Regions from separate parts of the Homo sapiens genome. Here region 2 is linked to region 1. A link means that fine-mapping ties the variant in region 1 to the expression of a gene that starts in the linked region. Tissue or cell type: fibroblasts. Region 1 holds a variant in brackets; the other region holds the start of a gene. All regions are shown on one strand. Distances are between the middles of the regions.

Region 1 (8,264 bases):
TGACTTCCTGAAGTCCTGGGGTGTTGCTTTTGCACATACATATACAGCTTTTCCCCTATGCCTTGTTTGTTGATCTGAGTTTTGCCCTTTTTTCCCTTGACAGTTAGACACTGCCATTCAAGCTTTGTTTCTGTCCTGTTTTATTCCAAGTGTCTTTTTGTTAATATACCTGCACCAGTGGGTGACTAGGGGCAATAAAAAGAGATGAAGAACAGACCTGGTTAGCTAAGAAAGATGAAATAACATATTCACAAAACCCTAGCACGGTGCTCAGGTACTGTCCACTTAGCCCTTGACTAAAATAAGTCTGGAACCTCTTCACATTTAAATTTTGTTTTTCTGATCTCATGTTATTGTAAGTACAGAGCACAGTAATTTTGGAAATGATTCTTTTTCTAGGTTTTTTTAACATGTGGGGATTTGGAAGAGTCAGCAAACAAGCCAGCCAACCTGTTAAAAAGCAGCAAGAAAATGCTACTTCATGTTCACTGGAGCTTATTGGAGATTTGATTGGACACTCATCATCTGTGGAGGTATTGCTGTTTAGCCACAGAATGTCCAAGCAACTCCTGCTTTTGCATTTCATTGCTCTTTTCTTTCAGTTGATCTCATAAAGGCATATACTTTTTCTTATATCTGTAGGTGTTTGTCAGATCTGAACATGGAATGGGATAGGCTATAGTATGTGCAGTTAGGGTCTCCCTTTCCGGATATATGATTTGAGGAAACAAGGAATGCATTGCTTTTAAGAATGGTCTTAATCACCATTATTTAGGAGCTGGAGATAGCTGACAGTAAGGGCAGTGTGAATAATGTTGACTATATGACAACAGTAAACAGAGGATGCATGAAGGGTTGTGGTTATATGTGTATACAGTTAAAGCCTTAACAGAATCGAATTCCAGGGGCCTTTATCAAATTCATGAACAGAGTCCTGTTTCTCCTGCCTTTGAAGGATAATAGTTTGTTAGCTTTAATGAAACCTATGCCTTGATTTTCATTGTGCAAATATGAAAGTTTTAGTTGAAAATTATGAAATGCGTAAGCTTTTAACATGTAGAAATCCAGATACATTAATATTTGCTGCAGGCATCATTGCCTGTAGTGAAGGAATAAGATCAGTTGAGGTAACAGATTAGCTGTGAGAACTAATAACAGTGTAATCAGGGCCCTAAGGAATTTCTTAAATTGTTCTTCCCTGTTTCATAGCCAAAGAACAAAAAATTTCTTTTCATTTGAAAGGGCATTCATGCTTAGGAGGAGCAGCGGCAGCATCCTTGTTAGTGAGCATTTCCTGTATTTCAGGCACTGTGCTAAACACTGGCTGCTGGAGTTTACAGAGAGAGATGAAAACAGTCCTTGCCCTCATGGATCTTACCCTTGAGTGGAGAGAAGGGGTATAGACCTAATAGGCTGTTACCCTAGGCTGCATTTGATGGACCCAAGTAAGCAGCAGTGACTCAGAAGAAACATTTCTTGCTGAATCTTGTAAATGGTTAGAGGATATAGGACTTGACACTTGAGCTGAACCTTGAAGTTTAGTAGGATGAGTATATAGCCTTGTCATCATAAGCTCCTTGATGTTGGGGTACAGTGTCATAGTTATCTTTGCTTTCCTCTAACAAGTAGCTCAGTTTTTAACTTTGTGTTTATGGTTGGGAGGTGAGCATGGACTGTGGTAGGCAGAAGGGCAAAGATAGCATTTACGTGGTGGCAAGGAGCACCTTGGCTAGGCCGGAGCGCTGGGTTCCTGTGAACAGACACTAGTAGGGGATAAAGCCTGGGAACGTGGTTTGGGGTCAGATTATGGATGTCCTTGAATGTAAGGCTGAGGAGTTTGGACTTTATTTTTTAAATAGTAGGAACTCATTAAAAAGGTTTTTAGATGGTAGGGAAAACCCCATGTAAAAGACATTCAAAATGTGTTTGAATGTGGCACATTTCTCATTCTATAAAACAGTGTCAGCTTCTTAGGAATTTTCCTGAGTGAAAGTGTTGAGACCTGAACACTTTTAAAAAGCATCTCCAGCTTCGTTGATAAAATCTAGGCTATCTTTGCAGTGTCACCTGAATTTCCTCATTTCTTTTTTTTTCTTTGAGACAGCATCTCACTCTGTTGCCCAGGCTGGAGTGCAGTCTTGGGTCACTGTACTCTCCGCCTCCCAGGTTTAAGCAATTCTCCTGCCTCAGTCTCCCAAGTAGCTGGGATTACAGGTGCCCGCCACCACGCCCAGCTAATTTTTGTACTTTTAGTAGAGATGGGGTGTCACCATGTTGGCCAGGCTGGTCCTCATTTCTATTTTCATCCTTGCTCTACTGGCGCAACCCCTCTACCTGTGTACTGAATTTTGTGTTTTCCAGTTTCCGAAGGAATTCTGCTCCCATGTTTCCTCCCTTCACTCCTGCATCCTCAGCTGAGTCTTATCCTGTGGTCTTCAGAAATGTATATGTCATTTCAGAGAAAACTCTTGTTTTTTTTCCCGAGAGGGAGTTTTGCTCTTGTTGCCCAGGTTGGAGTACAATGGCGCAATCTCCACTCACTGCAACCTCTACCTCCTGGGTTCAAGCGATTCTCTTTCCTCGGCCTCCCGAGTAGCTGGGATTACAGATACCCAGCTAATTTTTAGTATAGACAGGGTTTCACCATGTTTGGCCAGGCTGGCCTTAAACTCCTGACCTCAGGCAGTCCACCCACCTCAGCCTCCCGAAGTGCTGAGATTACAGGTGTGAGCCACCACGCCCGGCCCTGTTTCTCTTTTATTTCACCCTTTCCTTCGAGGACCTCATCCTTTTCATTGATTCACTTTTCTGATACAACTCTTCACCCCATAGTATTCATGCTGCCTTTTGTCAACACTCTGTTTTCCTATTCTTAGCTTCCAGCCTATTCCTTCACTGGGCAAGCCCCTTCCCCTTACTTGGGGCATTTTCTCCCTTTGAAGCTTTTTCTGAATTTCTGTGACATGTCATAGTCTATACTGCATTATTTAGTACCTGATTACATAATCTCTCATTGGTACCTTTATTGTTTCAATTATGATTTGCTTTTCAGAATCTTCTTGAGGGTAGGGACCATAAACGTAGTGCTGACACTTAACACCTATGGATTGAGTATATCTACTTTTATAGAGAGCTGAAGCCAGTGTTTATCTTGGGAAATTTAGAATTCAGACATTTTTTCCATAGCCATTATACAGTATAAGTAATGGTTAAGTAAAACCAATACTTGAAAAATCAGATGATGAAAAAATCTGGAAGAACTATGAGAATTCATGTACTTTACAAAAATAGCTATTCTGTAGTTGAACAATATTAACAAAATTCTGATTAAAATATTAGATATTATTTGTATGTGACTTACCAATACTGAAAAATGAAATGAAGTTCTACACCCAGATCCAAAGGAGTCTTTAAGGCACATATCTCACACGCACATGTGTTAATGTGGTATTAGACACTTCTCTGCTTTTCGGGGTCCCTATAATCAGTTTTAATTTTCTTTACAGATGTTTCTATACTTTGAAGATCATGGACTAGTGACGTGCTCCGCTGATCATCTCATTATTTTGTGGAAAAATGGAGAGCGAGAATCTGGATTGCGCAGTTTAAGATTATTTCAAAAATTAGAGGAGAATGGTGACTTATACCTTGCTGTCTAGTTTAAGGAATTAAAAATACACATGCATGAACCTTGAACATCAAATATCGGGTACTACTCTGAAAACCATTAATATATTGATCACTTAAATTGGTAATTTTTTTTGTCAGTCCATAAAATTCTACATGTTTAAATTTTTTGTGGACCTACCAACCAGGAACATGTTGCTTCTCAGGTCCTAGTATATCCTCCAAAGAATATACCACAAGTTTTTCCATTTGACTTTGAGCTGCTGTTGAAGTGGTGAGTGCTGTGTTTTGAGCTTATTTTGAACCTAGATCCTTGTGAAAGGTACAAATAGAGGTAATAGTTAAGTTATGGCATTTATTAGAAGTTTTATTATTTGGCTTCCTTTAGAATTATTGTGAAGTTTAAAAATAGCCTTTCTCCTGCAAATTTTCCTAGTCTTTAGTAACTGTTAGTGTTCTATATAGCACAAACTTGAATCTCTCAGCCAAAAAAGGGAACATATATACTGTTTAAGTATGGCAAGTTTTCTTTGGTACCAATTTGTTTAGATAATT[T/G]TAAAAATGTTTTTTAGTTCTAGCTACTAAAACCTGTATGAACTCAAATGGATAGGCATCTTGTGAGGGTGTGTTTTTCCCAGTGTGAATTGGCTTGAAGAGCCATGGGCTAAATGGGTACTAGAACAACAACTGCCCCTCATGTACGCCAAGGATGAGCTCTAGATCATTTGAGAGGCACAGTGTTTCCGGAGTCAGGGACTGCAGCTGAGCGCAACTGCCCCATCTGACCACTGACTCAAATACGAACTGCTTGAGACAGACTTCTTTTATGTAGTTCTTTGCAGTGTCCATTGAGACACTATAACCAGCCTTGTAACAATATGTTTTCTCCTTTTGGTGCTAAAAAATGAAAATATTAGAAAGTAGTCTACACATTAAAGATTGAAATTCTTAAACTACTGATGAAGAAAGGGCAACGTGACAGATGTTAGCAGACTGACCCTTCTTACAGAAAACCTACAGATTTATTTGTTCATTATACAAATATACTACAAATATACCCTAAAGGGAATCTCCATAAGTTCTTTTACTAGTTTTAGCTTTGACAGTTGCTTCCACAACTACCTACAAAGACTGGAAGAGTTAAGGTCATCTGAGTAGACCAGTGGCATAATGTTACAAATGAGGAAACTGAGGCCCAGTGCAGTAAGGCCTTGCAATTAAATCTGTAGTGCCCAGTATCACCAAGCAGCTCTAAAAACAGGAACTGAAGACTGAATGAGAAAAGGCTTATATGACTACTTTAAATCCAAACAACATTGAGTCATGAAAAGTTCTATGGAGAAATATTAAAACTTAAGCTACCTCAATTACAGAAGACTTTCTCCCATTATTCACGTGCTTTTTCCTTTAGAAATTCTGCATTGGCCCATACATTTGTAAAGTTGTTTTCTGAAGTTGTATGACACAAGGGAGCCATAGACTTAACTGTTTTACTTCCTAGCCTGTTCTAGGCTAGTATTTTGTGATAGTAATCTATTCAAATGGAGTGGTAGAAATCACATGAATTTTGGAAGCAAATGGTACCGTAAGTACCACAGCAAATTCCTTCTGGTCATTATACAGGCGTACCTCAGAGATACTACAGGTTAGGTTTCAGACCACATCAAAAAAGCAACTATTGCAAATAGAGTGAGTCACATCTAGTTTTTGGTTTCCCAGTGCCTATAAAACTTGTGTTTATACTACAGTCTTAAATTTCTAAAAAATGTACATACCTTAAGAATACTTTATTGCTAAAAAATGCTAACAATCATCTGAGCCTTCAGCGAGTCATAATCTTTTTGCTGGTGGAGGGTCTTGATACTGCTGGCTGTTGACTAAGGTGGTTACTGAAGGTTGGGGTGGCTGTGGCAGTTCCTTAAAATAAGATAGCGATGAAGTTTTCCAAATCAATTGACTTCCTTTCACAAATGAGATCTCTGTAACATGTAATACTATTTAATAGCATTTTACCCACAGTAGAACTTCTTTCAAAATTTAGAGTCTGTCATCTCAAATCCTGATGCTCCTTTATGAACTAAGTTTATAGAATATTCTAAATCCTTTGTTGTCATTTCAACTATGTTTACAGCATCTTCACTGTGGAAATGACTGTCTCCAGAAACCACTTTCTATACACATTCTTAAGCAACTTCTCATCTATTAAAGTTTGATCATGAGATTACAGCAATTCATTCACATCTTCAGGCTCCACTTCTTCCAGACTCCTTTTAATGCTGGAATTTTGACCGCCTCCCATGAATCAGAATGTTCTTAGTGGCATCTAGAATGCTAAATGCTTCCCAGAAGGTTTTCAATTGACTTTGCCCAGACTCTTCAGAGGAATCACTAGTTAGGGCAGCTACAGCCTTATTAAATGTATTTCTTAAATAAATAAGACTTAAAAGTCAAAGTGACTCCTTGACCCATGGACTGCAGCATAGATGTTGTGGTAGCTGGCACGAAGACAACATGAACCTCCTTGTACATCTCCATCAGAACTCTTAGGTGACCAGGTAACATTGTAATGGGCAGTAATATTTGGAAAGAAATTTGAGCAGGTCTCAACCATAGGCTTAAATATTCAATAAACCATGCTATAAACAGATATGCTGTCATCTAGGCTTTGTTATTCCACTTCTAGAGCATAGGCAGAGTAGATTTAACATAATTCTTAAGGGCCTTAAGATTTTTGGACTGGTAAATAAACTCTGACTTCAACTTAAAGGCACCAACTACACTCGCTGGCATTGAACTTCTTCTCCCCAGCTATGAAGTCCTAGATGACATCTCTTCTAATAGAAGACCATTTCATCTTCACAAACTCAGTTGTTTAGTGTAGTCGCCTTCAGTGATCTTAGCTAGATCATCTGGACAACTTCCTGCTGTTGTTGTCCCTTGCACTCTGACGTTAATGGGGATAGTTTCATGAACCAACCTCTGCTTGCTTCCAGCTTTTCTTCTGTAGCATCCTCACCTCTCAGTCTTCGAAGAAAGAATTGAAGAATTAATTAGGCTTTGGCTTAAGGGAATGTTGTGGCTTGTTTAATCTATATAGACCACTCAGACTTTCTCCATCTCAGCAGTAAGGCTGTTTCACTTTCTTGTTTGCATGTTCACTGGAGTTAACACTTTCAAGAACTCTTCCTTTGCATAACTTGGCTAACTGGTGTAAGAGGCATGGCTTTCACCTGCCTGGGCTTTCAACATGCCTTCTTCACTAAGCTTTATTATCTGTAGCTTTTGATTTAAAGTGAGAGACATGTGACTCTTTTACTTGCACATTTACAGGCTACTGTAGGTTATTAATTGGCTTAATTTCGATATTGTTGTGTCTCAGGGAATAGGGAGGTCTAAGAAGAGGGAGAGACTGGAAACCGCTAGTTGGTGGAACAGTTAGAATATACACAAGATTTATCAATTAAGTTCACTGTCTTATACGGGCATGGTTTGCAGTACCCTAAAACAATTACAGTAGTAACAAAGATCACTGATCACAGACCACCATGACAGATACAAGAATAAAAACATTTGAAATACTCTAAGAGTTACCAAAATGTGACACTTACACAAAGTGAGCCCATGCTGGGAAAATGCCCCGATAGACTTGCTCTATGCAGGGTGGCCACAAGCCCTCAATTTGTAGAAAAGGCAGTATCTTTGAAGCACAATGAAGCAGAATGCAATAAAATGAGGTATACTTGTATTCTAATTTTCTGCCATGAAAAACTGTCTAGAGGGCAGTCTCCAACCCTAGGGACTAGATTGCTTTTGTTTTCATGCATGCCCTAAGGTCACAGAGATGGGGGATAACAGTATGATGGGAGATTCTGGTAGGGACTCAAACCTGATGGTGTTCAGTAGTTGCAGGTAGACTGCTGCTAAAAGTTGGACTTTCAATTTAGAATAAAATAATGGGTCAATGTATATTATGTACATTTTCTCCATTTCCTGAGTTTAGCTTTCAACAGTTAAGATACTTGCAACAGCAGAAGTAACACTACATAGTGTTACAGTGTACAAATCCCTTGTCATTTTTATTTTAAAATATATTTATTACCTCAGTCTCTGGCTATATTCACATAGCGCAAGGGCACAAGATCATCCCTTCTGTTTCTCTCTCTAAAGCTGAGTAGGTTCTGAGTGAACTGACAGGCTTGTTTTTTTTTTGCCCAGAATGCTAACCAGTCCTGACATGGAGGGCAAGTAAATTTAAAAATCTTAAATTAGAAATAAAGAATGATCTTAGGAAATTATAGGGTCATTCTGGTCCAGCAGTGTTTTATAACTGGCTTCCTTCTCTTACTAGTCACGGAAATTATTAGAGAGTGTTGCATTTTCCTAATACGGCCCTCCTCAGCACATGACATTTAAGTAAACAACTCTGTGTAAGAGGCAGTTATAATAGTTTATATAATATAAACTATCTGATACACATATCATCTGAAAGCCTGTATTTCTAACAAGTTGACTATGTGGAAGAATAGACTAGTTCGCAGGCCAGAAGATTATACCGTAGATTACACTGGTAAAGAGCAGAAATTGTTGACGCTTTAGTACCTAGCTGTCTTAAAGCATTTTTAAACATTTGCACATTA
Region 2 (8,000 bases), 220 kb after region 1:
AAACTATATCATCTCTGAACAGCTGGCAGCTTATACTATGTTACATCCTGGCTTGAGGACTTACTTTCCTTCAAAAGGAAGAATTACCTGATAGTCCTTAAAAATTCATGGAACTACTGAAGAAAGTCATGAAAATAAGGAAAATGTGCTCATTCATTCTAATTAATGTGCTGGGAAAAGAAGGGACTAAATTGTAATCATATATACAATGGCAGAAGGCAAACTTGGATTTTATGAAATCAGCTTGCAGGACTCATTTGAGCTTATTAAACTTTATACTTCATTTTAAAATGAAAAATGATGGTGAAAGGCCTAGCAAGAATTCCAAGAGCTGAGAAGAGAATATGTGCCTGTATCATGTAACATCCAGCCTTGCTTTAGACTTCTGTTGTGGTGGCAAAGCAAGACATTAGGACCTGTACAAACCCAAAAGGATCCTGGGGAAAACTTAACCTCAAGAAACCAGAGTTGGTTACATGATCCAACACTCCTCACTTACAGACTTTTTAGCCAATCTCGGAGGCTCAGCGTTTTGACTTCCTGTACAGGGATAGCAGGTTTCCCATACAGAAGTGAACTAAGATGAAAGCAGTGCTATGACCAGTACCCCAGATAAAGACAGTGTGGTACTATGCACTCTGCTAGAGGTGGCCCCACCTCATTCGCCTGGTCAACAGACAGATAATTTAATTCACCACTGTAAAAAGCAGTGGTTCTCAAAATGGGGTCCCCAGATCAGCAACACTAGCATCTCCTGGAAGCTTGTTAGAAATTCAAATTCTCAGGCCCCACCCAAGACCTACTAAATCAGAATCTCTGGGAGTGGAGTCCAGCAATCTATATTTTAACAAGCTCTCTAGGTGATTCTTGCGTAAAGTTTGACTCCAAAACACTGACTTAGAAAACAAAAATGACTTTTTTCCAAAATAGCTCTACTCCTCCCCCAAATAAAATCTCATTATTATTTACCATAAGGTCAGTGGAATATCTATTTATTTTCCTTTTATATATAGTCAACTCAGGATTATCCTCACAAATTCTGGAGTGCTATGGAACAGAAAACATAGCAGTCACTAATAACTGGCTTAGGCACACCATTTTACAGGAGATTTATCCTCCTCATTAGGCTTTGCTTACCAAATTTCATGGATATTTCCTGAATCGCTAGCACCTACAACACAGTCTGGCCACAAATACTGAATGAACAAATGAGCACATTCTGTATGAATGGAGGGAAAACGGGGAGCTGGTGATGCTGCCATCTGGAAACTAACAACATCCTGTGTCTGATCCACAAAAGAGTGAACCTACACAGAGGTCATAGCAAGTTGACGATATTGTCAATAACGATTCTTCTCTACAACTGGCTGTCTAGTCCCAGATGCTCCCAAGTAGGAACAGCTGGTATGAGAAAACTTGTAAGAATCCCTGGTTCTTCCCAGAGAGAGGTTCAACCATCTCCTCTGAGGATTTCTGAACAAGAATTACAAAACTGGCACAATATCAAGAGTGAACATCCTGCAGGATTCTCCTGTTGGAGTACTATTTTTGAAAAGGCAAGCAAAAAGGAAAGAAATTGCTAGGAAGTTGCATTTTCACAGCAATTGGGAGACAAATCTAACTTCTTACCAGAAATGGAAACCCATGTGATATCATTGTACTGCATATGAATTATTAATGCTTATAACCCTTTTTTTTTTGCAAATTAGGTATTCAGGAAGGTTCCTGTTGACATCATGTTTGACATCATAATGCCTCATCATTCTAAAAGCTTAATGAGATGAATTATTGCTAGAAAAGAGAGAGAGAGAGATCAAGCACACATTTTTGCACTCTGGGGAATACCAGAGGCCAAGTAGATAATGAGGATACACTTCATAATTGATGTAAAATGGCCAGGGGGAGGGGGTGGAAACTATTACAACCTTCCACCACTGTAAACAGGACCAAATGGTAAAGATTTTATTTTTCCACCTGTGTGCTTTGGAAAGGGGTGGGGCACCACCACGTGCCTAGCAACTATCTCAAACTCTTACGGCAAAAAAAGAATGCTTAGTCTACAAAAAAATGAATGTAAAGTTTTTATAAAATTATCTCAGCAACAAAAGGGCACAGAACATGTGAACTTTACGATTGAGAAAAGACAATACAACACCGAGTCACAGGCCTAAAAGGATACTATTAAATATATTAGGGCAGTTCTGTGATAATAATTCTGTAAGATTTGCATAAATAACTCTGGTCTCAAATTTCACTTCAAATATATACTTTCTGAGATCCACACAATGCAAAGTAGTGTTAAGTCAATGAACCAGGGGTTTCATTTCCAACATTCCCAGTAATGGGTTAGAGTGAATTAAGCTCTTATTTGGGAATCTTCTTGATAAAGCAAAATGAGTTAAACTCCTACCCAGGTCAAGCCTTTTAATACTTAAGCCAAGTAGCAATGAGATTAATACAAGTTTATACAAGCTGCTAATAATTGGGGCTCATTGTCCCTTCAGTTTTTACTTCATTTGGTCTCTAAGCAGCCTCTTGAGGGAAGTATTAAAAATGTACAGAATGGGTTCATTCAGTATTCTTTCTTCTACTGAACAAACATGGAGTAGCTAGAGTTGCCAAGTACTAAACTGAGATTATAGATATTCTAGAAAACAAAAATTCACAATTTCTCTGGAGCAACCAAAAAAAGTATCACAAAGTTCATGAGCTGTCACAATTTTGAACTACTGCTTCAGGTCTTCAACCGTCAGGCAAAAGGATGGTCTTTACTGATAATATCCCAACTTAATATTTTCACCAAATTTAACATTTTCATCCCTGAAAATTGCTCCTAAAGCTAACTTTGTGTGAACAGGGAGGGGGAGAGAGAGAGAGCTTGACAAAAGCAAAGTATAGCGTTCAGCACATGCCTCTGTAACGAATGGGCAACTGGTAGGTTTGTACTGTCATAAATCCTAGACTCTAGTCTTCAGACATGCTATGCTAAGATCACACTGTTAACATTCAATAGTTAGGAGAGAAAGCTTACTCCTGGCACATAGTAGGTGCTCAATAAACGATGTTTTTACTATAATGGTGATTATGATTACTGCCAGAGAAACACTGCAACCACAAGCAAACATCAGTCAAGCTTCATGTTAAACAATCAGATGCTGTTAAAAAAAAAATAGGTTCATTAAAAAACTTTTGGACTTCCAGATTGAAGCCAAAACATGTTATCCTTCTCCTCACTCCTCCACTGTGGGCTGCCTTCATCCAATGAAGACCAAGTTTTTAACTATTAAAAATACAAATGTGTCTTTGACAAATAATCCATGGAATGGTTCTTGGTAACCTATTGACCAGGTAAAGGCTGTGATTCTATCTGACATTAGGAGTATTTTTTTCTCTCTGTACAATAGGATATGCCATTGTTATCTTGTTTGCTGAAAGGAAAAAAGACCCAGTGCCCAGATTTACACAATGAAAAGCCTCTTGGATTTAACGGTACTTTGAGAACATACGGGAGGACACTATTTAAATAATTATTTTTCTTCTGTCTTTAAGAAATAAATATTTAGCGACTGCTTTAACCATCTAAACAATTTTTTCCACTTCCTCAAAATCCCACTCTCTGGGAAGATCAGTTGTATGTGCAGAATCATCCTCAGACAGCTGTACTGCACTGGAAACCACGTCCCCTCACGGTGGCTCTGCTGACACTCCGAACTCATGGCCCGGTTCTCTCAATTCTGTCTAGGATGCAGCCAACCCAGAGAAACGTTACAGTGACAAACAACAGGTTCCACTCTGCTCCGTTCCCACATCTCTTAAAACACGAACACTCATTCATTCACAAATCCCTACGCTCGGTTCCTGTGCTGAGACTCCAGCCTGGCTGGTAATCCCAGGTAAAAATCGGAATATGGGGCACTATCTATCCTGGTGCTGCAACTGCACCAGTCACCTACAAGGCACGCAAATCCAGCTCAGTGCTCAGATTTCATTCAACAGGACTGGCCACCGAATGCTCTCAATGGTCCCCACCCCTCTTCCTGCATAAACCAAGCCACAGCCTTCCTGCCCTCAAGGAGGAACAGGCCAGCCCACCTGCTTCCTTCTGCGCTCCCTTCCCCGCCCAGTCCCCCAGGACCAGCTAAGGACGCTTCCAGGACCCCTCCAGGGGCCTTTTTCTGACCACATTTCCTGGGCTCCCATCATCTCCACAAATGAAAAGTAAACTCCTCCTTAGTGACAACCTCTCCAAACCAACCGCCTCACGGTCACCCAACTCCGCCGGAGCCCCCTACCCGTGCGAGCCCCGCCGACGGGGCGGACGGCCCCCACGGCGTGTGCCAGCGCGGGGCATTTACCTTCACGCTGGTGTAGCAGGTCTGAGTCTCGGCCTCGGCGCTGCTGCAGCAGTGGCGCCTCCGGCCCCTGCTGGTGGTCGCGGCGGGGGCTGCGGAACCCGCGCTGCTACCGCTGCCCAGCTCGGTGCGGGCCCTGCGGACGCGGGCTACGCTGGGGGGTCCCGACGCGCGGCTCGGGGGGATGGCGTCGGCGGCGTCGGTCTGGACGAAGAGGCCGGGCAGGGGTGCCGCCGGGCCCTGCGACACGCTGGTGGTCTGGCGGGGCGAGCTGGACTCGTCCGAGTCCCGGCAGTAGATCACGCCGCTCTGCGAGACATGGATGCTGGGGGCGCAGCCCATCCCTCGGCCGGGCTCCCCCGCGCGCCCGCCCGCGCCCGCGGCCGCCGGGACCCAGCGCACCCGCTGCCACCTGCAGTGAGGGGGCGGCCGCGGCGGCGCCCGGACTGCGCGCCCCCCGGCCTGTGTGTCCGCCGCTCCGTCGGGCTGGCCGCGGTGCCCCCCGCCGAGCCTCCGGGGACCGCGCGCGTCACCCCAACTTTCCCTTTTGGGCCATCTTCCTCCCCGAGCGGGGGAGCGCGCATACACAGCGCCCCGCGCGCACCAGCGGCCGCCACCCTCCCCGCCGCGGCGCCCCAAACACGCTCCCCGCGCCTCCGCCTTCCCCTCCTCCCTCGGCGCGGCCCCCGCCGCCGCCCAGCTCGACCTCGCCGGGCTCCCGCACCCGCGGCCCTGGGCCAGGGCGCCCGCCCGCCTGCCCGCCTGCCTGCACCTTCTTTCCCCACTTTCGGTCTGCGCCCGTCCCCTCCCTCCCTCGCTCCCACCCTCCTTCCTCCTCAGGTGCCCCGGCTCCGCGGCCGCAGCCGCCCGGGCCCCACTGCGCCCCTCCGCCCCTCCCGCCGCTCCCGGAGCTCTCCCGACAGGGCAGAGCGTGCCCGCGGCTCGGCTCCGCCGCGGGGCCCCTGTGCGCGGCAGCTGGCACCGCGCCTCGGCGCCCTCCCCTCCTCCTCCGCTGTCCAGAGGCCTCGTCTCTTCTGCACTCATCCCGACGCCGCCCCCAGCGCCCCAGCCCCTCTTCCCCTGAAGGGCTGTGTAAGCCTCTCGCTTTTCACCAACACATTTTCACACATCCCAGAGCTAAACACCAGGAGGCCCCTCCCGAAATGGCAGGGGCCCTACAGCCCAGGCCCACCCACCGCATTTGCTTGCCTCTCAACACACCCGGGAAGTGATGGAGAGACCTCATGGTTCCGTCCTCTTCCCCCAGCCCCACCGCCTACTCCGAAGGCTGAGTTGGATGGTGACCCAGTCTTCAGAAGAAGCCCATTCCATGTCTACTCATCGTTTGGAAGTTTGTGCCAAGGGATGGGAGGCCCTGCGGAGGAAGGCACCCTTGAACACATACGTTCCCCTAAGATCCAAGGCAAGAACAGAAAGAAGCTGTCTGATGGTTCTTGGCTTTCTCCCCCATTTTCACCTCTTCCTTAGGTGTCACTAAATGTTCATGCTGGTTTCTATCCCGTCCAGCCGCCCATGTCAACTGCTGTTCCTCACACTCTGGGCTGGGCAGTCAACAAGGCCTTCCCTCATTCTCCTTGGTGAGGCATGCACAGACTGAGCTGTGCTGGAGGAGAGGAAGAATGCCTTTAGAAGGATGGCTGCTGTTCATCCTTCCCTTGTAAACTCTGAGTTACAGCTGCGAGACACCACTGCCCATTCAGTCACTGGTTCCCGCAGTAATTCCTGCCCGATTTTCACAATGGCACGGGGAGATAAATTAGATGGTCTAAGAAAGGATTTTATCTAGAGTTGCTTATACGGACAAGGGCAGTAACATAGAGGCTTAATGCAAGGCACAAAGAAGTATCCAATTTTAAGGTTTGTTTTTTGTTTTTTTTTCATTCTTATTTTCCTTTTTCTTCCTGGACCACTCTTGGATGTGACTGGATGAAGACTTCAAAAGACAGTTTCTAAATTTCATAGAGAAGCAAGATATCATTCCCAATCCCAAATTCAGTTATACAGGGAGAGTCTAACCTTATTCTTCTACCTTTGCTTCTCTTCTCAGTTTAGCTCTCTTTTTTTGATACAAAAAAACTCCATCTCCAGCTAACCTGGAAAAAGTCTATGCTGTATTTTTTAATGGACAGGCAAATTGCTCATAAAATTTCTGCACAGGTTGGGTCCTCCTAGAAGCAGATTCTGAGATGGTGTTTAGCAGGCAGAGGGAGGCTTTTTAGGAAGTGCTCTTGTAGTCAACATTTGTGGGAGGAAATAAAGGGAGGGAATGGAGGGAGGCAAGCTTGAGCAGAGGGAGAAATTGACCAAGCCTCAGGCATCCCTGCAGGGAGGATTCTGAAGGTGGGATGATGCTTCAGAGTTGTTCTGAGTTGGGGCTGGGTTCTGAGTTGTTCTGGTGGGCCTTTATACCCCAGCATGGACCAGTCTTTACATGCAGGCCACCTCAGCGACCTTGGGCAAGGTGGCTCTCTTCAGCTGAGGCACTGCCCCTAGGAGATGTCAGCTGAGCCAAGGGCTTTCTGCTGGCAGCACTCCCAGTAGCTGGAGGAGTAAGTCCTTTCCTGGCATCATAGCCTCCACCCACAGTTCCCTTCCAGGCTGCTGAGATCCATGTTTCCTTGTCCCATCCATGCCTGTAAGAACACCACATTAAATGGCTGAGACTGAGATATGGGGACAGTCATTCATTTAAAACTAAGCCTCATAGCAACCATCTGCTCTACTTCCAAAGGACAATTTAGGACCTGGGAAAACAACATCAGAGTTAAATTGCAAAAACACTAGTCTCTATACTAGTCCCTGATGTAACGTTCAAGTCAGGGTTTAATGATTCCTAAAGCTTACCTGTGATAATGCATATAGCATTTCAGTCATTACCTTTCATGGAGCTATCAATGACAGCCTTCACATACTGAAATTTACAGCCATGCATATTCTCATGACACATGTCTACTTTTTCAGAGTTTTCTCTAGGAATGCAATGAAACCACCCAGAAAAAAGCACCAGTCACTCACTGAGGCTTTGAAAGGCAAGAAGACTGTGATGAAACAGAAATTACAACCAATCTTCTGGTGGAGAACATTAGGAGCTGAATCATGAAGCTAGAAGTCACCCAGAAACAAATTTAGGTTGAACTTTCTACATTAAAAAATAAGAATAATTAAGCCTTGAAAGAGTAGGTGACCTCAAGGTAGCTAGTGAATAGGACTAGGCTGCTTTAGTGGGTTAACTGAACAGTTCATATTAGGACCAGTGACTTTCATTGACTGCAACTTCTTTGTTGGAATAGAAGATAGAAGGGGAAATGCACTAGGTATACAGTTTTCTTCCCATTCCCAGAGCAGACAGTAGCTCAAACACATCTTCAACTGCCAATTCTGGCTTAGTGAAAGAAAAAAATAATGTGTCCTTATAATCTCCACCAAGTGTTCTCAGTGGGAATGTGCAACCTGCCCCCATTGCTGGAACAGATCTGGCTGCTGAAACTTGCAGAAGTGTGCAAGTGGAGGGGAAATGGTTTAACTGAAATCATTTCCACAGCTTAGTTCTGAAGCCTGAGTTCTGACCCACAGAAGAGATTTCTGAACCAATTGCCACTGACCACTTCAATGCATCCCAGGTGACAG

Evidence for each region. PIP is the estimated chance that this variant, and not a neighbour inherited with it, causes the effect.
Region 2: it holds the start of PDE8B, and the variant in region 1 is fine-mapped to the expression of PDE8B in fibroblasts (GTEx, PIP above 0.99).

What each region holds. Positions count from the first base shown.
Region 1 is chr5:77,428,530-77,436,793 of GRCh38, reverse strand. WDR41 (WD repeat domain 41) reads left to right here. Exons shown (of 13, transcript NM_018268.4): 12 at 400-533; 13 at 3,507-5,861. The coding sequence ends at 3,659. Among named protein-coding and RNA genes, the nearest start is that of WDR41, 60 kb to the left of the region's middle. The variant T/G (reference allele first, on the strand shown) is at 4,183.
Region 2 is chr5:77,207,620-77,215,619 of GRCh38, reverse strand. It overlaps PDE8B (phosphodiesterase 8B), which reads right to left and starts at 4,940. Exons shown (of 22, transcript NM_003719.5): 1 at 4,356-4,940. The coding sequence starts at 4,694.